3 separate regions of the Homo sapiens genome follow, and all the other regions are linked to region 3. Evidence: fine-mapped expression QTL. A gene starts in region 3. Each other region holds a variant in brackets. All regions are shown on one strand. Distances are between the middles of the regions.

What was found.
Region 1: its variant is fine-mapped to the expression of KIF25-AS1 in cerebellar hemisphere (GTEx, PIP 0.98).
Region 2: its variant is fine-mapped to the expression of KIF25-AS1 in prefrontal cortex (GTEx, PIP above 0.99). The same link has a PIP of 0.9 or more in anterior cingulate cortex and cerebral cortex.

What each region holds. Positions count from the first base shown.
Region 1 is chr6:167,951,978-167,959,977 of GRCh38, reverse strand. AFDN (afadin, adherens junction formation factor) reads right to left here. Exons shown (of 34, transcript NM_001386888.1): 30 at 7,791-8,000. Among named protein-coding and RNA genes, the nearest start is that of HGC6.3, 24 kb to the left of the region's middle. The variant T/C (reference allele first, on the strand shown) is at 4,019.
Region 2 is chr6:168,015,988-168,024,259 of GRCh38, reverse strand. It overlaps KIF25 (kinesin family member 25), which reads right to left. Exons shown (of 13, transcript NM_030615.4): 5 at 6,220-6,287. Among named protein-coding and RNA genes, the nearest start is that of KIF25, 22 kb to the right of the region's middle. The variant G/C (reference allele first, on the strand shown) is at 4,719.
Region 3 is chr6:167,993,065-168,001,336 of GRCh38, reverse strand. It overlaps KIF25-AS1 (KIF25 antisense RNA 1), which reads left to right and starts at 4,260. Exons shown (of 4, transcript NR_103750.1): 1 at 4,260-4,431; 2 at 4,736-5,099; 3 at 5,234-5,824; 4 at 6,873-7,150. KIF25 (kinesin family member 25) reads right to left here and starts at 3,666. Exons shown (of 13, transcript NM_030615.4): 1 at 2,467-3,666; 2 at 2,017-2,245.

The DNA.
Region 1 (8,000 bases), 41 kb after region 3:
TTAGATTAGCACTTTGATTAAAAGAATGAAAAGTTACATGCTACCAAAATAGCCTTGCAGGAAGTGATCTTTGAGGAGAGTGCAGAATAGATTAAAAAATAACTATTACCCGATGAATCAAGACCATGCAGACTGAAAGTTATTCTAAATCGAGAACTACACTGGGATTTGAAAGCCAGTATGTAGCAAGCTTGAACCAAGGTTCTGCTATATGGGTAGTCCACATTCCCCAAAACAGGTATTTTCAGGTTTTATATACATATATATGTGTGTGTATATGTTGAGATCTGTGTGTTTATAATTTTGTATCATGAAAATGAAACTGGTATCTGAACATAAAATGGGGTCATAATACCCTTTACTTTTTGACAAATTACTGAAAACACGACTCTGTTAAAGCCCTTAAAAAGCCTTTTACTCTACAGACTTTTTCTGCCTATGCTCCCTCCCTTTAAAAATGTCCACCCTAAAAAAATTTTAGGGACAAAAACATGAAGAAAACACCTGATCATTTATTACAAATTAATGATTGAATCGGAGTACCTCTGGTAAGTGACATAACACCTGGTTTTTAGACCAAGCAAAAGTCTACTCTATGTCTTAGGGACCGATTTCCTCATTAGGAAACTGAAGTCCTCTCTCACAGTGGTAGAATGTATTAAATGACACAGGAAAAACCATCCACTGTAGCACCTGGTCCTCAGTAAGTGCTAGCTCCCTTCCTGTAGCACAGCCCACACACTTTTTTCAGATTTAAGTAAAATGACCATTTTATTAGAAGTTGTAAGATCTAGAGCTTAGCTGGTGAAACGCCCTTGTGGCAGAGACTTAACACCGTAATCCACAAGGAAGACAGTGTGGCTCAAAGAGGCCTACAACAGAAACTTGAAGTTCTTTTAGGGCAACTGTTTTACGCAATCATACAAACTTTGTATTCCATTCTGCAATATATACGTGTTGGTTTTAATACATATTTCTTCTCCTAATTCCTTGAGTAAAACTGAGACTTCCTGAAGATGCACTGTGACTACACTGTGGCTCTGATATTCTGGGCAGGGCCCATTTTCATTCTAGAGGCACTCCAATTTGAATAGACAAAATACAGTCTGACTTCCCCCAGATAGATTTCTCTGAAGAAACAATTCTGAAATTAGGCTTCCTACTAATTCCTGCTTGAAATTTTTATAAGGCTTTTAATTCAACCCCTTCTATACCTGGGATGCTCAAGAGGGGCATGTCCAATTTCTACAGTTCCACGCAAAAACAAGCAAACAAAAACAAGAAAGCGGAAGAGGAGGGAAGACCTAGCTTGGGCTTTCATGTAAGGAAAGCAGCAGAACCACGGAACTCTTTGAAAACATCTTTTCACTGGTATTATTACCCCAAGGGGGAGGAATTTCTCCTGTGAGTTCTCATGTTTTCTGAGTCAGCAGATGATCCATTAAAACGTGTTAACAAGACAAACCTGAGCTTAGCCACTGAGAGATTTGTCAAACCAAGTAAATTTCGAGAAAATGGTTCCTGCCACTACAGTGTTACAAAAAGAGGCATTTTTGTGTCCTAGAAAGGGCACGTAATATGAATTCAGAAAACTCTCGTTAAAACCTTCACTCTCACCTGATCCATGTGATACAAAGCAGAGTATCCCTTATCCAAAATGCTTGGAACCAGAAGTGTTTCAAATTTTGGATTTTTTATTTTTGGACTATTTGCATATATGTAATGAGATTTCCTGGAAACAGGACCCAAGTCTAAATATGAATTGATTTCTGTTTCATATACACTATATATATAGCCTAAAGGTAATTTTATAACATATTTGAAATAATTTTGGACATAAAACGAAGCTTTGACTACAACCTCTCACTGAGGTCAGGTGTGGAATTTTCTACTTGTGGCATAATGTCGGTGCTCAAAGAGTTTTGGATTTTGGATTCTGAATTTTCAGATTAGGAATGTTCAACATGTACTGGCAAAGTCTCTCCCATGGTGGGTTTGGGGACCCTGGCTCTCACGTGCTCTGTGTGATACTGGGTCAATCTCTTCCATGCTGGCTTAGGCCCTTGTGCTCTGCCATAGAATAGCTTTGTCATGAGGAAATGAGAGGAATATATGCAGTTATGTGGCAACCTGGAGCAATGAAGGCACGAATCACACACCTTGTCATCAGGTGGAAGGACTAGCTACTTCTCGAGGCTGCAGCCAGGCAAAGCTGCAGCCACAGTCACGGCCACCTCCATGGTCCTAACTAACCGGCTACTCAAGTTAGAGACAGGTTCCAAGGCTAGGACAGAGTACTCTGCCAGGAGAAAGCAGACATCCTGACGAATTCCAGGTGTCCTGGATTTGCCCATGCGATATAAAGGAAAAGCCCTAACGACACAATGGGCTTCATCATAATCTAGTGCTGAAGGAGATCCCTCCAGCAAGTCAGACTTTGGTTTGAACATGACTTACACACCATCTCAGTCATTAAAATAGGAAACAACCTAGTAACAGCTTTACTCTTGAGATGCTAACAGTCAGGAAGGTCACACACCTTCGAGAGCTTGGGACCTTGGCCTGGAATCCGATCCCACTCACTCGACTGCCTACCACACTCCAGAACTCTTCTAGAAACTTGGACAAAGGTCACTGTTCCCATGGAGGTGGCGCTACCCAGAAGAGACAAACATGCCTAATGATGAGTAATGTGTATAGCATGTCCACAGAAAAACACACAGGACACAGTGAGGCCAGTGGGCCCCTGATACAAAGCAGCATGGGCAGGTGGGCCCCCCCCATATGAAGCAGTGGGGGCAGGTGGGCCCCCCCAGAAAGGTGGCATCTGAGAGACACCTGCATGTGCCAAGAGGGTCAGCCATGGAGACAGGCAGGGACCCTCCCGACGGCCCAACATGTGGAGGGTCACTAGAAGGCAGGCAGGCAGGCTGGAGGGCCAGTGGGCAAGGGTGTGAAGAGGAGATGAGACCCGAGCAAACTTAGACCGCCTGTCTAAGTGAAAGGAGAGACTTAGGAGGGCTGTGAGGACATTCTCGTGAGACTGCTGTATGCTATGTCAAGGCTGTCCTGTGAAGGGACTGGGGGACAGTACCGAGGGATCCTGCCAGTCTCTCGCAGTGACCCCGGCAGGAAAAGGAGAGAGGCTCTGGTCACGGGGGCACAGAGATTGGTCAGGTTGTGAGGAGGTCAAGCCAGTAGAGTTTCTGAACAGAGAAAAAAGGGGGTCATGCATGACTGTGAGGTTTCTTGCCTGAGCAACTCGAAGCATCAGCTGAAATGGGGAAGGCTGAAGGCAGAATGATGAGCAGTGCAAGGTGAGTGAAGCAGACAAAGATTTCACTTTGAGCATGCTGCATTCCAAAAGTCTTACTTGACTCCATGTGGAGATGTTACATGGGCAGGTGGATATCTGAGTCTTTAGTATGTGAGAAGTTTGGACTAGAAATCAAATGAGGATATTGCTGGCATCAAAGTGGTGCTACCGTCTCAGGTCGGAAGTGAGCACAGAGGATGGAGAAGGTAGGCCCTGGACTGACAGGGGTGATGGGTCACAAAGAGACCAGAGGGAAGAGCAGAAACGAGTGCAGGCAGCCTCCCAACTTTATGAAACTCAGCTGCTTCCAAACAGGAAAAGACCTGCCTCATTTCTCTAATTACCTACCTGAAAATCCTGTGATGTGTCTAAGAAAATATCTTAAGAACCATACTGGGTAGTGTCACTCCCTATATAGTCACATATTTGCCCTTATCCTTATTAAGGAGAGGGCTAATATCTTCACAGATGAGGGTCTCCTAGGGTAACCTGCCAATTCTTACATAAAAAGAATTCTATAGTTTTTTTTTTTTTTTTTTTTTTTTTTGAGCCAAAGTCTCGCTCTGTTCCCCAGGCTGGAGTGCAGTGGTGCAATCTCTGGTCACTGCAACCTCCACCTCCTGGGTTCGAGCAAGTGTCATGCCTCAGCCTCCTGAGTAGCTGGCATTACAGGTGCCCGCCACTGTGCCCAGCTAATTTTTG[T/C]ATTTTTAGTAGAGACGAGGTTTCACCATGTTGGTCAGGCTGGTCTTGAACTCCTGGCCTCAGGTGATTCACCTGCTCGGCCTCCCAAAGTGCTGGGATTACAGGCATGAACCACTGTGCCCACCCAAGAATTTTATAAATAATGAGGTGCTGTTAATAATATGTACTGGGGAACTGGGCTAAGAAATGCTCAGAAACATGTGGTTAAGATCAATATTAATACTCAAAATAATTATCTTCTAAAGAAAGAAACTCTCTGAATTATTTCTATGGAACAAAAACCTTATTGCAAGCATTATTTTACTGTTCATGTGTCACAGAATTCTTCATAGTATAAGAAACTCTCTTTGGGCCTGAGAGCTGGCTGGTATCTTCAATGCCTCAGGTCAGTGCCCACCGTGTCATGGATGCTGAGCAAGTATTTGCTGAATGAATATCTCACACTAAGGTGACTCTGATCAATATCTTCCAGCTACACTTATGTACATCAAAACACACAAAGAAGTAGGGAGAAAAATGTATAACTTTTAAATCTTTGTTTCATGTAAAAAAAAAAATGCAAAGCTCAGAAAATATGCCTTCCAATCACCAAGGAGGGAAGGTGTTTGTAAGAAAGGTTCCTCTCTAAGGTGTTATTACCGCTGTGCTAAACTGAGGGGGGAAGGAAAAGGGGACTATTATTTGGTGAAAAGGCCACTAAAGTCAAACCTTGATTCACAGGTTTTAAATGTACCGTCTGATATTGGCTTTTGTCTTTATAAGTTGACTAGAATTTGTCTTCAAGTTTATATAAATATATCAGAGTATAATTGTCTAGCAGGTGATAAAGATACCATACGCAAGCATAATGGGCCCTAAACGATGAGCCAAACTTCCCCAATATGACAATGAACACTTTGAATTTACAACAGACCATGAACCTCAAGTATTTTTCAGCAGACTGATAAATTGGCATGGCTGATAAACTGAATTAAAATCCATGTTATATTATTAAAGAAAACATAGAATACATGTTCACTGGAAATCTCTTACTCTACCAACAGACAGTTATATCTTAACTGGCAAATAATGTCAATACCCTTTCAGCTGAGTTTATAACAACTGAATATTTAAAATCTATGTCTAATGTGAAAAAAATGAAATAGATTACTCATTACAAAATTTATTTCATTTGCTCATGTATTTATGACTACGTAAGAATACACGGAATCAATTTATGACTGAAACCGAGAAAAGGTCAAAACCATAAACAAACAGTAACACTTAAAATTAACGGAGAAAAGCAAAGAGTAACTAAATCTAGGAACATTCAAAGGCATGCTTCTAAAGTGTCAGGGACTCCATCTCCTGATGGAGGACACCCCTAAGGAGAACTGGATCTACTGAAAACATCAAACAGCCACCACTGAAAGAAAAGAAAATCAAGACAGGAAAAAAGTACCAAAGGGAAAGAAACAAGAACATACCAAATCTAGAACAGAGATTGCTGGCATAGCAGTCTGCTGCAGGTAACAGAGAAAGAAAAAAAAAAAGAAAGATGAAGTGTGGAAAAAAAAGTTAGGTTTAGACCTGTAATCTGCCATCGGCATATTTTCTCACTATCATGCGTCATCTGTGTTTCGACAACTTGATGAGAAAGGTAAAGAACTACAGACTAACTTCTAGTATTCAGAAACAGAAAAATGCCCACATGGTATTAAATGAGTTTCATCATTAGGATACATAGAAAATAAAAAACAGCAAAATTTCCCTTAGCTTTCTTATTTGGAGACTAAGATACTAATTGTAACAGAACTACTAAGCAAAAAGCAAATATTTTTTACTAAATTTTCATAAGAAACTTTCCAAATATCGCAATTCATACTAAAAGGCTTTGAAATATTCAGTGTTTTAACCCATTTGGAAAAACTCTGAGAGACCTTTAAATAAAAGTTTAGTCCTCACAGAAAAAGATACTTACAGAAATACTACAAGGCTAATTTTTCATTATTGTCAGGATACAGTTATAACAATAAGAAATGCTGATACTGTTGACTCATTTGCCATACACAACAGTTGTATATTCAGAGTTGAAAATGCAGCGAAGGAAAAGACATCTTTTCATCTTTTGGGGTGTGGGTGACACAAGGCCATGAACGTCCTTAGGATCCTAACGAATCCATCTTAGTGCACCCAGGAGCGACACTGGCCAGAGCAGAGGAGCATGCACCTGGCGCCAGCAGGCCCAGCACCTTTCAGAGAGCTCTGATGGGGAGGGGAATGCAGAGTACTTTTAAAGTACTGTAATTTTTAAGCTACTTTTAAAGTAAAATAGCTATTAATGTAGTGGTTGGTTTTTCAAATAAAACAGTGCTTACAGTAAACACAGCTACTCATCAGGAAGTTTACTACTAATGACTTGAGGAATACTAATAAAAATAGTAGTAAAACAATGTAATAATTCACACTTTGGCCTCATTTAAGAAACTTAAGTGTCTAAGGGGATTCAAGCTGAATTTTGGGCAAAGTTTTATATATACACACATTTTGGCTGAGATATGTATATATTAAGAAGTATGTGTGAGAGAGACTTTTCAGGAAAAATTCACAGAGCAAATCGAAAAAGAATCACACTACTGGGCTCCAAGGATCTAAGGACTCACAAATTATTATCTAAGGTTAAATTTCATTGTGAGGTAGAAAGATTAAAATGTCTGACCTAATAGCTCCTGGTAGAGCTTTACCATTAACAGCATAAAAAAACAGTTGAAATTAGAAACAGAATCCAAAAGATAAAAAGAACATGGCTCTGGCCATCTTTTCTCAAAATATTGCACTGTGTCTAAAAAAGAAAAAAAAATCACTAAAACTCATGAACACAATATGGTCAATAGCATTCTCTATAAATTAATATTAATAAATGCCCAAATTAATAGCAGTAAATGCCTCTTAACAGTTCTCTTTATAGAGTAACAAAGTCTTGCTTTTATCTAAAATTTCTGCATCACAATTTATTGTGTTAAACGAATTTATACTTTTGTTAGTTTATTTAAAACAAAAATCATTTTCATACTGTGGAGAAATAAGAATAAAATCAGTTCTCAATATCTTTATGCTACAATTGGAATATAATTGTTTATTACCTTAACAAATGCTTGCTTCATCAACAGTACAACTACTGTGAAGATTCTATTTTTGGTAATGACTGTAAATGTAATGATCTGAACAGTTTCTTTTGTTCACCACCACAAAATGCTGACAAGACCAGGGGCCAGACAGTCATCTGCCCTGTGTTTCTGTAAATAAAGTTTTATTGGTACAGAGACACACCCATGTGTTTACTTGTGCCTGTGGCTGCTTTTGTGCTACAACAGCAGAGCTGGGGGTTGCCAGAGACCCCGTGGCCTGCAAAGCCTAAAGTATCAATCTGGCCCTGGAAGAAAAATTTTGCCTACCCTGGATCAAGATTATTACTGGTCATTAACAAATACTTGTTTTCTCAACTGGAAGTGTTAAGGAAAAGGATAATTATGAGTTTGCTAATGAAAACAATCAAGTTCCATTTGAATTGTATTTAATACTTGTCAAAGCATGTCTTAAAAAATTTAGCCTTATAGGCCTGACTCATTTCTCTACGACATCAGCCAAGAGTAACACATACAATAAAACAGTATAAGCCTAGGGGCCCTTTTAATCCTTATCACGATCAGGGGCCTAGCTATCCCCATGGGAAACACGCAGAAGCTAAAATAGGGACCACAGATGGGCACAGCCAAAGCACTCCCCCCTTTACCCTCGCTCTTCGTTCAGCCTCCAGGCGCTGCATGATCAGCATGGTGTCCACATCATCGTCCTCCTCCTCCTCGTCATCTTCGTCCTTCTGCTTCGACTCCTGGAGTCTCTTCTGGAACTGCCACTCCAGCATGAGCTTGCGCAGCCGGTCGCTCTCCTCGGCGCTGCGGTCCGGTTTGCTCTGGAGCTCCTGGATCTCCTTGCTCAGCAT
Region 2 (8,272 bases), 23 kb before region 3:
CTAAGCCATGGGGCTATTACTCCAAAGTGCTCATAAATTTGCTTCTTTTCTACACTGATAAAAAGTATCATTTTTCTCTATACTGTTTTTAGTGCACAGACATGAGAAAAAGCTTTTGCACGTGAAGACTGGCTTTGCTCTTACAAATTAAATCCATTGAACCACCAGCACCGTGTATGGAAGTTTCTTCAGGAAGCTACTTTATTACATGTGAAACTGATGAAAATTTTCTTGAGTATTCATAGTGAGATTTTTAAATATGATTATTTTAGGGGAAAAAAATCAAGTTATTTGGTTTTAGATATACAAATAAAATGTTTTTCAGTAAATAATAAAAATGCATGAGACTATACAGATTCTAATATTATTGCAATCCTTGAGTAGTAAAACACATTCTGCAAAGTGCACTGTCTCTGAAGCACCAGATCGCGACACATGGTGGCTAAGATACAACTCCCTTTCTCTCCCCTAACCAACATGTAAGTAATGCAGATAAAATAGAAACAAAATATGTTTTAAAATATGCTGCTGACGTTGAAGGGAAGAAAGAAAGGAAACTGGCTGGGCACGGTGGCTCACGCCTTTAATCCTAGCCCTTGGGAGGCTGAGGCGGATGGATTACTTGAGTTCAGGAGTTCAAGACCAGCCTGGCCAACATGGTGAAACCCGGTCTCTATTAGAAATACAAATATTAGCCAGCATGGTGGCTCACGCCTGTAATCTCAGCACTTTGGGAGACCAAGGTGGGCCGATCACTTGAGGTCAGGAGTTCAAGACCTGCTGGGCCAACATGGTGAAACCCTGTCTCTACTAAAAATACAAAAATTAGCCGGATGTGATGGTGCATGCCTGAAGTCTCAGCTACTTGGGAGGCTGAGGCAGGAGAATCGCTCGAACCCAGAAGGTGGAGCTTGCAGTGAGCTGAGATTGTGCCACTGTACTCCAGCCTCGGCAACAGAACAAGACTCCTCAAAAAAAAAAAAAAAAAAAGGAAGAAGGAAACTTCCTAGGTGCAAGAAATGAAGAGTGGAAAAAGGCTGGGTAGAAGGCTTGAGTTGGTACTGCAAGCACCCAGGCTGAGGAACCAATCCAGACAGAAGCAACAGGGCTTACAAGGCAGGGTTTTCTGCCCTCTGGAGACAGCAGGCAGGACATGGAGGTGCCATGGCTGTGCAAGTCCAGGGCACTCAAAGATAGGCCTAGTCCCTGAAAAGGGGGTCCAGATAAGTGGTAAGAAAGTATTCCACGTGCCTGAGAGTCTAGATGAGGAGTCAGGTCTCCTGTGAGCAATCAAAGCCTCACACCTGCACCGCAAGTGAGCACAGAATCCAAATGCAAGGAGCCCACAGGGCAGAGAAATCACAAACCACAAACGTTACCTGAAAACTGATTCAGAACTTTTGTGAAACCCCAGGCCCTTGCAGGAAAAATCATAGTTGCAAACCCACAGCCAAGAGTACACAAGTCTCCTACCAAAAAAAAAAAAAAAAACAACAACAACAAACAATCAAAAAAACTCCTCACCAAAGATAAGTTCGCAGTAAAAACTTATAAAACACAAAATAAATAAATCACTACAGTCAGTGGCAACAAAGATACAAGTAATACAGCAGCCGCCACAAGAACCAGACACAATAGAACATTCTGAAAGAGACTTAAGAAAACAATGTTAAACATGAATAAAGTCATGCCTGTAATCCTAGCTACTCGGGAGGCTGAGGTGGGACAATCACTTGAGGCCAAGAGTTCAAGGCTGCAGAGAGCTATGATTGCAGCACTGCACTCCAGCCTGGGTGATAGAGTGAGAGTCTGTCACTAAAAAATAAAAAATAAATCAGTAAAGATACAAAATAAGGAACACAAAACATAAGGAAAATGGAAGACTATTTTTAAAAGGGTAAGAAGATTTAAAAATGAGCCAAATAATTTACAAGCACGAAAAACAGATGGGTTAAATGGAAGTTTACCCATGGATGAAGAGAGAATAAGTGAATTAATTAAAAGATTGTCACAGGAAAATTACCCAGAATGCAGCAGAGAGATACAAGGAAGGCGATCATCTCAAAAGCGGGTAATGGTAGAGACACAGATGGTAGAATGAAAAGGTCTAATCTATATCTAATAGGAATTTCATTAAAAGGATATAGATAGAAGGAGAGAAAGTACTTTTAAAAAGATTTTGCCTGATAATTGTTCAACTTAAAGAATGACATTAATTCAAAGATTAAAAGTCCCAAGCAGTATTATAAAATAAAATAAAACAAACAAAAAACTCAGCAACTGCCGAGTGAAACAGTGCAGCTTCACTTTGATTTGGAACACTGAAGTCAGAGAGAAAACTCTTAAAAGCATCTAGAGAAAAAATTGATAACGTTGAACTTTACCCATGCTCTGAGATCCTGAACGACCGCAAAGGCTAAGAAATCCCAGCACTATCTGTAATTTCCAGAATGGCTTATTGCAAAGAACATCCCTTCCCTACCAGACTTCGATAAAATGCACAGATGCCTTAGATAAGACTTCTCAGACAGAAAATGGAACAGTGGCTACCAGCAGCTGAGGGAGGGGAGACAGGCAATTCAGTGTTTAATGGGTTTGGAGTTTCAGGATTGGATGACAAAAAACACTGTGAAGATGGATAGTGGTGATGGTTGCACCAGATCATACTTTGTCCCATTGAACTGTATACTTAAAAATGGCTAAAATGGTAAACTTTTATGTCAGGTATATTTTTCTACAATTATAAATTTTATATATAAAAGCACATGAATTGTATAAACAGAAATAGGTTAGCACAGTATGTAAACTCGTGCGTCATTTGAAGCAGAGAGAAAGGGGAAAACTTCACCATGATCTGTCTTCGAGGGAGCTTCTCCTCTGAAGCAGCGGAAGCTGGGGAGGCAGGGTCGGTTCTTGCTGCTTCTTTTGATGACTTTGATGTTGGGACAGATATTTTATAGAAAATGGGTTTCTCCTGCTCTTCCAGAAAAATTCTCTTAACAACATGGAAGGTAGATATCTCAGAATACTATAAATTAAGAGGACAGCCCCCACCATTAAAAGAGTAAAACTATTAAAGTCAGCTGCCTGCATCTGTGTGGGTTTATTTCTGAACTCTTCTCCGTTCCATTGATGATGTGTCTGTTGGTTTGCCTCTATCACGCTGTCTTAATGATTTTAAGTCTTTAAATCGGGTAGTGTGAGTCCTCCAACTCTGTCCTTTTCCCAAGTTGTTTCGGCTATTATAGTTCCTTCACCTTTCCATATAAATTTTATCATCAGCTTTTTCGTTTCTACAAAACATCCTGCTATGATTTGGGTTGCCATTGTATTGACCGCCTTTATTTGTTTTTAAAATAGCTTTATTGAGATATAGAACAGCTTTCCTCTGATTAATGTTAGCATTCAGGTAAATATATCTTTTCCATCCCTTTCCTTTTTCCATCTTTTAAATCCTCTTTCCCTTTTTCCTGACATTTATTTTTGATTGAGGATTTTTTATAATTCCATGTATCTTTTTTTGTTAGCTTATTGTATATATCTCTAGCTTGTTATTGTCTTTGGTGGTTGTTTTAGGGTTTACCATATGTAACTTAGAGGCTGCCTGCAATCGGATTCTATCGCCTAACATACCAAATAAGGACCATACGAAAGTACACTTGCACGCCCACTCCCAGCCTTCACACTGTTGCTCACGTGCATTTTATGTCTGCATGTGTCATGAGCTCCACAATCCATTGTTATTTTTCTTTAATCAGTTAACTAGATTTGGAAGAGTTTTTTTTTTTTAATAAGAAAAAGCGTCTTTTGCATATGCCCACATGTCCTTCAGGACAGAATCCGTTGTACACTCCTTGTGGTGTGTCTCTGGCGATTAATTCTCTCAGCTTTCCCATGTCTGGAAATGTCTTTGTATTTGAAAGACATTTTCACTGGCACAGAACTCTGGATGGACTGTTTCTCTTTCCGTACTTTAGAGGTGCTGGTCCTGTATCTTTTGATTTGCATTGCTCTGTGGAGAAGCCTAAGGTCATTTTCATGTCTGACCCTGAGTCTTCAACGTGTCTTTTCACTCTGGTCATTTTATCTCTGGTGTTTCTCTGTTTGTTTGTTTGTTTGTTTGTTTGTTTGAGATGGAGTCTCACTCTGTCACCAGGCTGGAGTGCAGTGGCACAATCTCAGCTCACTGCAACCTCCACATCTTGAGTTCAAGCGATTCTCCTGCCTCAGCCTCCCAAGCAGCGGGATTACAGGTGTGCACCACCATACCCAGCTAATTTTTGTATTTTTGGTAGAGACAGGGTTTCACCATTTGGCCAGGATGGTCTCGATCTCTTGACCTCGTGAGCCACCCGCCTTGGCCTCCCAAAGTGCTGGGATTACAGGCGTGAGCCACCGCGCCCCACCTCCGGCCGACTTCTTCAAATGTTCTCTGAGCGCCCACTCCCGTCACCTTTTGGGACTGCAACTCCCGCTGTATTTGGCTTCTTGGAAGCCAATACATCATGGTCCCATGGCGCCATGATGCTCTGTTCACTTCCTTTTTAATTGTGGTAAAAAAATACATATAACAAAATTGACATTTTCACCATTTCAAGTGTGCCGTCCAGGGGCCTCAAGCTCATTCGCACTGTGGGGCTTGCGTCAGCCCAGCCGTCCCCGGAGCCCACTCTGTCCACTCGCTATGGAGTCTCCCTGGTTTCACGTTGGTCATTTCT[G/C]TTGCTGCGGCCTCAAGCTCACCCGTCTTTCTCCTGCATCCCAACCAGTACGTTCGCGTCTCCTCTATGGCATTTTTTTCATCTCCAGATGTTTTATTTGGGTCTTTTTATAATTTTTCATATCTCCACTCAACGTGTTTACATTTTCCTCTACTTCCTTGAACACACAGATTTATAACAACTGTTTTCACCTTCTTTACTAATTCTATCATTTGTGTTATTTCTCGCTCTATTTCCGTTGCCTGAGTTTTCTCATCAGAGGTCATATTTTCCTACTTCCTTGAATCATGTCTGGTAATTTTTGATGTCAGACTTTGCTAATTACTCCTAACTGGGTGCGCCATGTTTTGACCCTCCAATCCCAGTAATTTTTCTTCGGCTTTATTATGGGATGCCAGCAGTTACTTGGAAACAACTTGACCCCTCGAGGCTTGCATTTAAGTTCTGCCGCATGGCACCAGCAGCCTTTACTCCAGGGCTAACTTCTCACTCTACCCAAGGCCTTGTGTATCACGAGGTATTTCTGCCCCGGCGGGAGCACTCACAATTCCCAGGCCTGTGTGAGCTCTGCAGACTTTCTCCCGGGCTCCTCCCCGGTGGTTCTTTCCTGGCCTCCTCCTTCTTACCGCTCCTGTGCTGGTCAGTGCTCAGCGGAGGCTTGAGGGGAACCCTCTGCCCTTCTCCAGATGTGACCCTATCGAGCGACACAGGCTGCTGCCGGGGAGAGGAAGAGGCCTCAGGCACTGACGTCCTTCCGAGGAGCAGGAGGACAGAGCCTGGGAGCAGGACCACTCAGCCAGCCCTTGGTAGCTGAAGGAGGATGAGCAGGGCTTTCCAAAGGCCACGCGCATTGATTCTGAGCCTTCCGGGGCTCTCCTACCACCCTGGGAATACACCACGACCCAGTGCCGAGGAAGGCATCTGACAGAAAGCCCTATTGTTAGTTGCTATCATCACAACGAAATTACTATCAACAAACTGGATATATAAAAAATGTCTATTTACTTAAAACAATGAACATATGGATTACAGATGTCCCTCGTCTTATGATGGGGTTGTGACCTGAGAAACCCATTGTAGGTTGAAAATATTGCAAGTTGAAAATGCATTTGATACACCTAATTTACCAAGCATTGTAGCTCAGCCTAGCTTGCCTTAAGTGTGCCCAGAACACACACATTAGCCTACAGGTGGGCAAAATCACCAAATGGAAAGCTTGTACACTAAAGTGTTGACTGTTTCACGTAGTTTACTGAGTACTGTACTGAAAGCAAAAACCAGAAGGGTTGTAATGGGCACTCGAGACATAGTGTCTACTGAATGTGTATCTCTTTCACACCTTCCTAAAGTTGAAAAATCTACCTCAGGGACCGTCTGTATTTATAATCACAATTAGTCAAATGATAGGATAAATTACATATTTCATTACTCAAACCCCAATGCAAAATTTGTATTTTTAATATGGAAGTTTGCTTTATAGGACATCTTGAAAAGCACTTACCTTTCAAAATGATATGTCTTATCAATCAGAGGGTGGCCAGGACGATCACATTTCACCAGAATTGTTTCCTGAGAGAAAAGAGTAAAACGACGTCATAAGACTTTGTGTGCTGCGTTAATTAAACACAAGCCCCACCAACCCCAGCCTGCCGCCTGTTTTTGTAAACAACAAAGTTTGCCTGGAACACAGCCCCGTCCTTTGTTTACAGACTGTGTATGGCTGCTTCTTCCTCAAGGGCAAAGCTGGATGATTGAGTTGGAGACCACGTGGCCTTCAACGACGAAAATATTAACTCCCTGGCCCTTTCCCAAAAAGGTTTGCCGACCCCCATAAAGAGAAGAAGAAAGTCGCATCTACTGGGGAACACACAACAGAGCTCCTCAATCTGCCACAGGCTGAGGGTTCAACACCCAAATTACTGACTCTAAGGGCCCTTGACAGTTCGCAGGAGAGGTTTTCAAATGGCAAAAAAATCACATCTCAGACATCATTATATTCCATCGTAACCAGTGGAACTAACATGTCTGTTTCAAAAACAAATTTCGATCTTGCTGGACTGTATTCTTAAATTATATCCTGTGTAAGGGAAGCAAAGGCATTTTTCAGCAAGAAATCTGAAATTAGTTTAGTTTCACTTAAGCAAAGAAAAGATGAACCTGGATTGGTTCCAGTTCTAAAACAAAATGTGTATTCATGAAATAGCAGGGGTGATAGGGAGAATGAAAACCACAACTGCAGTGGCGAATAACCCAGAGGCACTGGATTTTTTCCATAACAGTGTTTAGCGGATGCTAGGATGATACCTCCACACCTTCTTCTTAGTAGTGTGTGTGTCTGTGTGTGTGTGTCTGCAATAACATGTCAAAGAAGTGGCCTATTTTATAAAGACAAAAGCTGTGAGATTCAACAGCTGTTTGTGGTTGTTGTTGCTGTTTGTTACTCGCTTACTGCTGGACGGGCAGTCGTGGGCAGCTGCCGGACTATTGCTGCCTCTGGATTCTGTGAGGTCTCCGATGTGAAATGCTGAGATAATCAAATAGTGAACCTGTCCTGTCTTGCCAGAGGTGAGAGGCCGTGGGAATCCCCGGCGTGTCTCTCAGTGGGGCAGCTCAGGAAGCAATGACGGAACGCCAGCCTCAGCCCCGCGCTGCCTGGGGACAGAGCCTCGGCTGTGCCTCGTAGGCAGCCTTGGGTTGCTCCCTGCCCCATGCCCACTGCTATTGTCCAGTGTAATGAAACAGCGCCCTGGCTATCCCCTAACTGGCCTCTGCCTCCAGTCCAGCACCCCTCCCACCTGTCCTTTATGTTGTTGCTGTAGAAATCTTTCTCAAATGCAAATTAGAAAAGAAGAAAGCAGATGAAGTCACCGAAGCCAAAGAAAGAAAGTTAAGAGGGAGGGAGTGGGTGACGCAGAATGCCACCTGTTGGGGAGAGGTCGCTTGGGTCCTTGTTTAAAACTCTTTATTGGATTTGGTAGACTGGGAGGTCACTTGCTACCGTGATTTGTATCCAATTTCCTGGGATGACTTTTGGGAGAGTGGGTGGGGATGCAGGCCCCACCACAGTGACTCTGGCAATGCCGGGAGGAGCAGCCGGTGGCTGGGGCGGTCCGTGGTCTCCATCGCAGCACAGAAACGACCACCAGGATGTGGAGGTTGCGCGTGCTCGTGCTCCGGCACGGCTTTCACAGAAGAAGCTTATGTCTCTGCTGAGTATTTACTGGGCAGTCACTGTGTACCAGAAACTGTTTCGGAACCTGCATGTTCTTACATGATAATGTCACATCCCCTAAGCCAGAAGCAGCTCTTCAGTTCCCTTCACGCTCAAAACACCGAAGCAAAACTCCGACACCCGCCAGGACCAAGCCCCTGGCCTCGCCATAAGAACAGACCTCCCAGTCCCTAATCCAACCGCCAGCCTAGGCCCTTTGCTCCTTTCTCGCGGCATATTTTCATTTTTCTGCTGTCCACTTCGGGGACCGTTCCTTTGATGCTATGCCAGAATGTAATCCTAGTGCTCCAGTATGAACCGTACAGGAACACACACCCCAGAG
Region 3 (8,272 bases):
AAACCTGAAATCCAAAATGCTCCAAAATCCAAAACGTTTTGAGCACTGAGATGACGCTGAAAGAAAATGCCCACTGGATTATCTTGCTGAACCGGTCCATACAAAACACGAACATTCGAAAATATGAAACAATTCAACATCGGAAACACTTCTTCTGGTCCCACACATTTTGAATGAGGGCCACTTGGCCTGTCCCGCGCCACACTGACGTATCCGACAGGCCCAATTTCCAGTCCTTTGACAAGTGACAAGTGGCCACCAGTCAAAAAAGTGCAGAAAGTACTAGAGCCAGCACAATCATGTCTAAACACTTTGAAAAGAAAAAGTTTCAATGACTATCAAAAGATCCGAATTTCTTGTTTCACACTGTAGAACCGGCCAAGTGCTTTCTAAAGACCTTCTCAAGTCAGGTGCTAAACTGCAGGATGCAAACACTGTGAGGCTCAAGCCAGGCCCTCCAGGGAAAGCTCATTTGGACAGATTAAGTGGAGGAAACCAAGACCAGAAAAACAGCCTGAGCAAAGCAAAGTCAGGAGTGGGACCCAGTGCCCCTAGCAAACTGGTGCATACGGCCAACCCCATATGGCGTTGGGACAGCCGGGAAGCGCAGCACCTTGGAGTGGCGGGAGGGTCAGCAATGGGAGTGGGGAGGGCCAGGTGTGGTCAGGATGGGAGTGGGGAGGGCCAGGTGTGGTCAGGATGGGAGTGGGGAGGGGCAGGTTTATGGAGGGAGGGTGAGAAGGTCAGATGTGGTCGGCAATGGGAGTGGGGAGGGTCAGGTGTGGTCAGGATGGGAGTGGGGAGGGGCAGGTATAGACAGGATGGGAGTGGGGAGGGTCAAGTGTGGTCAGGATGGGAGTGGGGAGGGTCAGGTGTAGACAGGATGGGAGTGGGGAGGGTCAGGTGTAGACAGGATGGGAGTGGGGAAGGGCAGCTTTATGGAGGGAGGGTGAGAAGGTCAGGCGTGGTCGGGATGGGAGTGGGGAGGGCCAGGTGTGGTCAGGATGGGAGTGGGGAGGGGCAGGTGTGGTCAGGATGGGAGTGGGGAGGGGCAGGTTTATGGAGGGAGGGCGAGAAGGTCAGGCGTGGTCGGGATGGGAGTGGGGAGGGGCAGGTGTGGTCAGGATGGGAGTGGGGAGTGTCAGGTGTGGTCAGGATGGGAGTGGGGAGGGTCAGGTGTAGACAGGATGGGAGTGGGGAGGGTCAGGTGTAGACAGGATGGGAGTGGGGAGGGTCAGGTGTGGTCAGGATGGGAGTGGGAGGGTCAGGTGTGGTCAGGATGGGAGTGGGGAGGGTCAGGTGTAGACAGGATGGAAGTGGGGAGGGTCAGGTGTGGTCAGGATGGGAGTGGGGAGGGTCAGGTGTGGTCAGGATGGGAGTGGGGAGGGTCAGGTGTGGTCAGGATGGGAGTGGGGAGGGTCAGGTGTGGTCAGGATGGGAGTGGGGATTTCCAGGGGGTTTGTTTCATGGGGAAGGAAGTAAGTCATATTGAGTATGGTTTTCAAGTAAGCATTTGAGTAAATGAACTTCAGATAATTTTGCTGTATCCATGAATACCATCAAAACTTTCTCTAAGTCAAAAGTATCAGTTGAGTCAATACTCACTGACTGCCTGCATGGCGGAGTGGGTGGTCTTTGGGGTTCATAAAGGCAGGGTGCTCCCTTTTTGATATAGTGACATAAAGGGAAAAGTCCATTCAAAGCCTGTCCCTGTTCGGTCGGACCCCGCAGAGGCAAACCACGAAAAGACGGACGCCCTCTCAGGTGCAGAACCACTACCACGCACGAGAGGCCTGCTCAGGCAGTTTGGCCTTTTGCAGGCCGTATTACAGAGGGCTGCAGAGTGTCCACTGTCAGCAAGACAGCGCCATCCTTAAACAGAGCCCCCACCCACAACTCGAGAATGTCCTGCTTTGGGACCGGGGACAGGACAGTAGACGGCATTTAAAATTGTGCCACTCCTCTGTCTTTTCCCTGAGCACACAGACATACACACACCGTGCAAACACAGGTTACCTGCTCTGCAAAACTGGATCGTCGGATTCACTATCAAAAGGCAACAAAGGACGAATCCGACAGTGAACTCTGATATTTCGTTTCAGCTCCTGCAATGATCAAGAGGTCTGCGTGTCAACCCGGGCGCGAGCCTGCACTGCGGAGCATCCCCCACTGAACGTGCACCGGGCACCAGCTCCTGAGACGCGGCCGTGAGATCTGCAGCACCTGTCTCCACTTCGAAAGACCCCTGCAGGGTAGTGAACAGTTATTTTATTTATTTATTTTTTGAGCCAGAGTCTTGCTCTGTCGCCCAGGCTGGAGTGCAGTGATGCAATCTCAGCTCACTGCGACCTCCGCCTCCCAGGTTCAAGTGATTCTCCTGCCTCAGCCCCCAGAGTAGCTGGGATGACAGGTGCCCACCACCACGCCCAGCTAATTTTTGTATTTTTAGTACAGAAGGGTTTTTACCATGTTGGCCAAGCTGGTCTCGAACTCCTGACCTCAGGTAATGCGCCCGCCTCGGCCTCCCAAAGTTCTGGGATTATAGGCATGAGCCACCGTGCCCGGCCATGAACAGTTATTTTAAACTTCTGGATTCATACTTCACAAATGTGTTCACTTGGCAAAGGGGTATCCCTTGGTAATAAGTACCAAGGAAAATCCCTTTGAATGGCATCCTGGGCTCGACATTTTAGGCATTTTAGAGGGGATTTTGGAAATTCAGTATCTGTCATATTTCCTTGATTTAATGACTGGAAGGAAATTAGAAGCTTTTTATTCTCATAAACTCCACTGGTTTCCAGTGAGCAACACATCTTCTCCGTATGTGCTCAGAACTTGCCAAATCCATTCTGAAATCTTGTCTTGGATCCACAGCAAGTTTATCCACCCTGTCATGCTGAGCAGCTCCTTCTACATTTTGAAAACCAAGTGGGTGTCATAGGCCAATGATTTACAGCCTCCGTCTGGTCTCTATGAACCCACAGAAGCTGGGATCAGCCTCTGCCTGCATATTCTCCATGGGCCGCGCACTGCACGCTCCTCAGCTAGACCAGGAGACCAGGCTTGAGGTGGAACACTCAGAAACTTCCACAACCAATTCTTCCTTGTGGGACTTGACTCCATCTTAGGAAGGTTCATATTATCTTTTTCATGCTCCAGATTAAAAAAAAAAAAAGCTGCAGCGTAGTGAGACTTTCTGAAGTGCCAGGTGCTTCACTGATATCTCCCTTTGTCTTTATAGCAACCCAGAGAGGTGGTGCTATTGTGAAGATTAAATAAGAAAATACACCAAATGGTTTCAAAAGTACTTGGTACACAGGAAGCACTCAATAAATGTTCTCTTATATCAATGTTTGGAGCACTGAACTACATAAGTAGATGCTTAAAATGAGAATTATTCTTTGACACATCTAACAGCTGGAGAACCTCTCGGCATGGCCAGGGAAGAGAAGCTTCGCAGGAACACTGGCTTCGTGGGCCTCGGGCAGGTGGAATTCGGAGAAACTGGCCAAAGTGCAACCATCAAAATCAAACCTCACAGAAGCGAGGGTCACCCACTCAATCATCCACCTTGGCATCCTCGTGTTGCAAAATCAAACCCTGAGACTTTACATTAAATTTCATGGGATCTCAGGTCTCATACCTTCGACCAAGAAAGCACGAGAGCCTCTGGGTCTTGTTAATGGGCAGTGAGAGACGTGGGTGGAAGGTGCTGGTGAGGAAGGGGCAGGGGCAGGGGCAGGGGCAGTCTCCACCGGCATCTCCAGTTACAGCAAAATCCTTGCTTTTCCCGCGCAAGTCCCCATCTCTGCAGATTCCCCCGCCCCCCATCTCTGCAGATTCCCCCGCCCCCCATCTCTGCAGATTCCCCCGACCCCCCATCTCTGCAGATTCCCCCGCCCCCCATCTCTGCAGATTCCCCCGCCCCCCATCTCTGCAGATTCCCCCGCCCCCCATCTCTGCAGATTCCCCCGCCCCCATCTCTGCAGATTCCCCCGCCCCCATCTCTGCAGATTCCCCCGCCCCCACCTCTGCAGATTCCCCCGACCCCCCATCTCTGCAGATTCCCCCGCCCCCCATCTCTGCAGATTCCCCCGACCCCCCATCTCTGCAGATTCCCCCGCCCCCCATCTCTGCAGATTCCCCCGCCCCCATCTCTGCAGATTCCCCCGCCCCCATCTCTGCAGATTCCCCCGCCCCCAACTGCCCGCTACAGCTCTTTCCTTGTGCCTCACAGCAGCCGGTCCCACTTCCTGCATCGCCACCAATGTGGCCCAGGCCACCAGCCCCCGTGACACTGCAGCCATCCCCTTTGCTCCCCGTCGTGGCCTCCCGACCGAGCAGCCAGAGTGACCCCGAAAGCCTAAATCAGCCTGCGGCGCCCTCACCCGTCCTCCAGCTGCCATCGCCTCCTGGGTGAAGAGGACGCAGGTCGCAGCCCCCGCAGCTCTGCCCCTCTGCCCTCCGGCCAGGCCGCCCCGCTGTCCCCCTTGCTGTCCACCTCTCTGTCCACCCCTGCTGTCCCCCCCCGCTGTCCCCCCCGCTGTCACACCCCCGCTGTCCCCCCCCCGCTGTCCCCCCTGTTGTCCCCCCGCTGTCCCTCCCGCTGTCCCTCCGGCGAGGAGGCTTCTGCACGTTCTGCGTGGGCCTCTCCCCGGGGCCGCCCCAGGTCTCCCCTGACGCCCACACCCACCACCAGGCTGTTGTGCGGGACCTTCCTTCTCTGCCTCTCCAGCTGGTGACGCGCACTGACGTCCTGCAAGGCCCGCTCCAGGTGCGCCACCTTTGACTGGCATGCTGAAAGGACAAAGGGACGGAGGCATTTTACCGGAGAGGACATCCATGGGGCCCAGCAGGTCAAATTCCTTTCTCTAAGTATGGGAGACATTTTTAAAAATAATGGAGTCCTCCAGGGCCGGCTGCGTGCTGTGGCCTGTGCTCCTCACTGCTTTGGACCCAGGCTGCGCTGTCTCCACCACGACCAAGGACTCACAGAGCTCGCCTGGGGGACCTGGCCCCACAGTCACCCCGTCCGTCATCAGCCTCAAATGCCATCAGCCCGTGAATGCTGCTCCATCGTCTGCATGGCAGCCAAGGAGGTCTCTGCTCCTAAAGCACCTGGGAGCCCTTGGTGAGGGGGGAGTGGGGCAGGGAAGGAGATGCTGGGGCCCAGCTCTGCTGCTGTGGATTGTTACAGTGGCCTGGGCCTCTACTCCCGCCTCTGTCCTACCAGGATGGTGCCAGGTGATGTGGCGATGAGTGGGCATCGCGTGGGGGCCTTGGACGAGCGTGGACACCCCAATCCCCAGACTGGCCATTGCCGTGGAGGCAGCGTGAGTGTGACATGGAGCTCGGTGTCGTGCTGCAGAGGACGCCTCGCGGCTGTACGCGTCATGATAGCCAGGGACCCCTCCACATGTCACTTAGCCAAAGGATGCAGCCCAGCCTGGGGCTTTCTACCCCAGGCCCGAGGACCTGCAGGGACAAGGACCCCTCAGCGCAGATGCAGCTCTCATGAGGCCTGAAACCAAGCTGGACTTGCAGAACTGCGCACGCTCCCTTTCTGAAAGAAACACCCGTTACCGGGTCCAGACTGAATGTGGGCGTAAGAAAGCGGGAAGGGTCCCCCACAGCAAGAGAGAGACCCTCCCAGTCACTTGGTCATCTGAGCCTTGAGTGTGTCCGGCCCCAGCCACCAGCCTGTCCCCACTATCCCTCTTGTCAGCACGGCTGAAAGGAGCTGCCTGGGCACCTGAGGTGGCTGAGGCTCATCTTTGAGGAGCATGGAACTCGAGGGGAGAAGTCGCGCCCCCAGGGAAGCCAGGTAAGGAGGCCCCGAGCCCCTGAGCCTAACGCCTGGGCACAAATAAGCCGCCTGGGGACCCCTCTGTGTGGCAGGACTGCACCGTGGCTCCCACAGGCAGGGCCTCAGCAGGCCCTGCCTCCTCACACGTCAGCATTCCCTCTGCGGGAGAGCCTTGGCGGCTCCCTGCTTCTCCCTTTGAGTTTCACCTTTTCAAAGCTTAAGTACACTGCTTTTCACAAAATAACATGATTGTCCCTTTCCCTGGAGCACATGGCTTATAAGAACACAGGCGTTGCCGGCTGTGGTGGCTCGTGCCTGTAATCCCAGCACTTTGGGAGGCTGAGGCGGGCAGATCACCCGAGGTCAGGAGTTCGAGACCAGCCTGGCCAACATGGTAAAACCCCATCTCTACTAAAAATACAAAATTAGCCAGGCGTGGTGGCAGGCGCCTATAATCCCAGCTACTCGGGAGGCTGAGGTGGGAGAATAGCTTGAATCCAGGAGGCAGATGTTGCAGTGAGCTGAGATGGCGCCACTGCACTCCAGCCTGGGCGACAGAGTGAGATTCTGTCCCCCGCCGCCCCCCGCCCCCCAAAAAAAGAACACAGGCATGCACACGTCACTCCTACAAACACGGCCTTAGGGGAGTTACTGAGCAGAGTGCACTGAAGAAAACTAGGCTACAGCAGTGATTTCAATAAAACATCATGTAGCCTCGCAGAAGATCAGTACAGGTTCCAAAGTTTCCACACACCTATTTTGGAATATCAGCAGCACAACCCTTGACCAAGTTCCTAACTTGACCATCATCTCTTTGGCCTGTGGACACACTGAACACTGGGCAGAAGCTGTGAGCATGAGACGAACGTGGGGATGGTGCTATTTGGTTCTTTTGTTTTTTTGAGACAGAGTCTTGCTCTGTCGCCCAGGCTGGAGTGCAATGGTGCGATCTCGGCTCACTGCAAACTCTGCCTCCCGGGTTCAAGCAATTCTCCTGCCTTAGCCTCCCAAGTAGCTGAGATCGAAGGCATGCGCCACCACACCCGGCTAATTTTTGTATTTTTAGTACAGACGGGTTTCACCCTGTTGCCCAGGCTGCTCTCAAACTCCTGGCCTCATGTGATCTGCCCGCCTCGGCCTCCCAAGGTGCTGGGATTACAGGCATGAGCCATCGGGCCTGGCCGGCTAGTGCAATTTGGACGATGAGTTTAAAACTGCAGAACCAAAGTAACCTCTTCCACAGGCTTCAAGCACAGTAGCTGAAGATAATAAATCCATTATAACAAAAGAGTAGCCAAAATGCTGTGGCATTCTTAGAAATGAAGAAAGAACTGAACTGATAAGACAAAAAAAAAAAAATCTCACGTCATATTATAGGAAACTCTGACACAGAACGCCCAACGTGGACACAGGTGCCAGTTCAGCAGTGACCGTCAAGACCGGGGAAGTGCCCTGTGGTGACCAGGAGAACAAGGAGCTCCTCCAGCAAGCAGGGCTGCAGTGGGAGCTGGGAGGGAGCAGTGCACCTGCCAGCGTGGCCGAGTCACACAGTGCCTGCCCTCACCTGTGGAATTTGGTGTCAGCTAAAAGGAAGAAGAAATGGAAACTTAAATTCTAGCCGGTCATTTTCTTAAAACTGCAAACATTTCTCTCGAGTGTGGACTGGCCCGGCTTCGGTGAAAGGTGCCCTCCTACCTAGCAGGGTCTCGGCACTCTGCTGTGTTCTTTGCACCGCGGTCACTATTTCAGAAACACGGTCCTGATACTCATCCTGATAATCTCTTAAGAGCGCCCGAGAAGAAGAATGAAACGCCTGTATATCCTGGTTAAGTTTCTATAAAATAAGAACATACACGATTCATAAAATTATATGATTAATGATCACAGTATAATTACATAAGAATTTGTTATATATGTTTCTATAGAATAATAACATACCCACACAATTAATATAAGGGATATGTTGTTAACTGGAAGGGTGTAAAGCAGAAGTTCTTCGGCCCGGGCCTGTCGATGCCCGCCAGGACTGTTTTCATGCTGCCTGTGCCTCGGCTCACTTACAGAAGTTCTGACTCAATACATCTGGGATTTCTACTTTCAAAGCAGTACATGTGATTTTATGCCCTTAAAGTATTTAAGAAACAGAAAGTCAAGTGTTTCACCAATTTCCGTAGGAAGGGCCGCTCACTGCACGGTGGGGCGATGCTGGGCGCGAGCCGTGTTTCCGTCTATTGTTGACTTCCTCACGATGCTGGCTCAGGCTCAGAGCCTCTCATCACCGCCTGTGAAATGGGGACCACCCTCCTAATCTACTATCCAGACCTGCCTTCTGGAAGCTCAATTATCACGAGCACATGGTGGAAAACGTGGGCCGGTGAAAACAACTTAACATGTAAATGTACATAATAAAATTCCAGGCACAATACATATGAACGCTTTTAGAGAACTTTGGGAGCAAAGCAACTG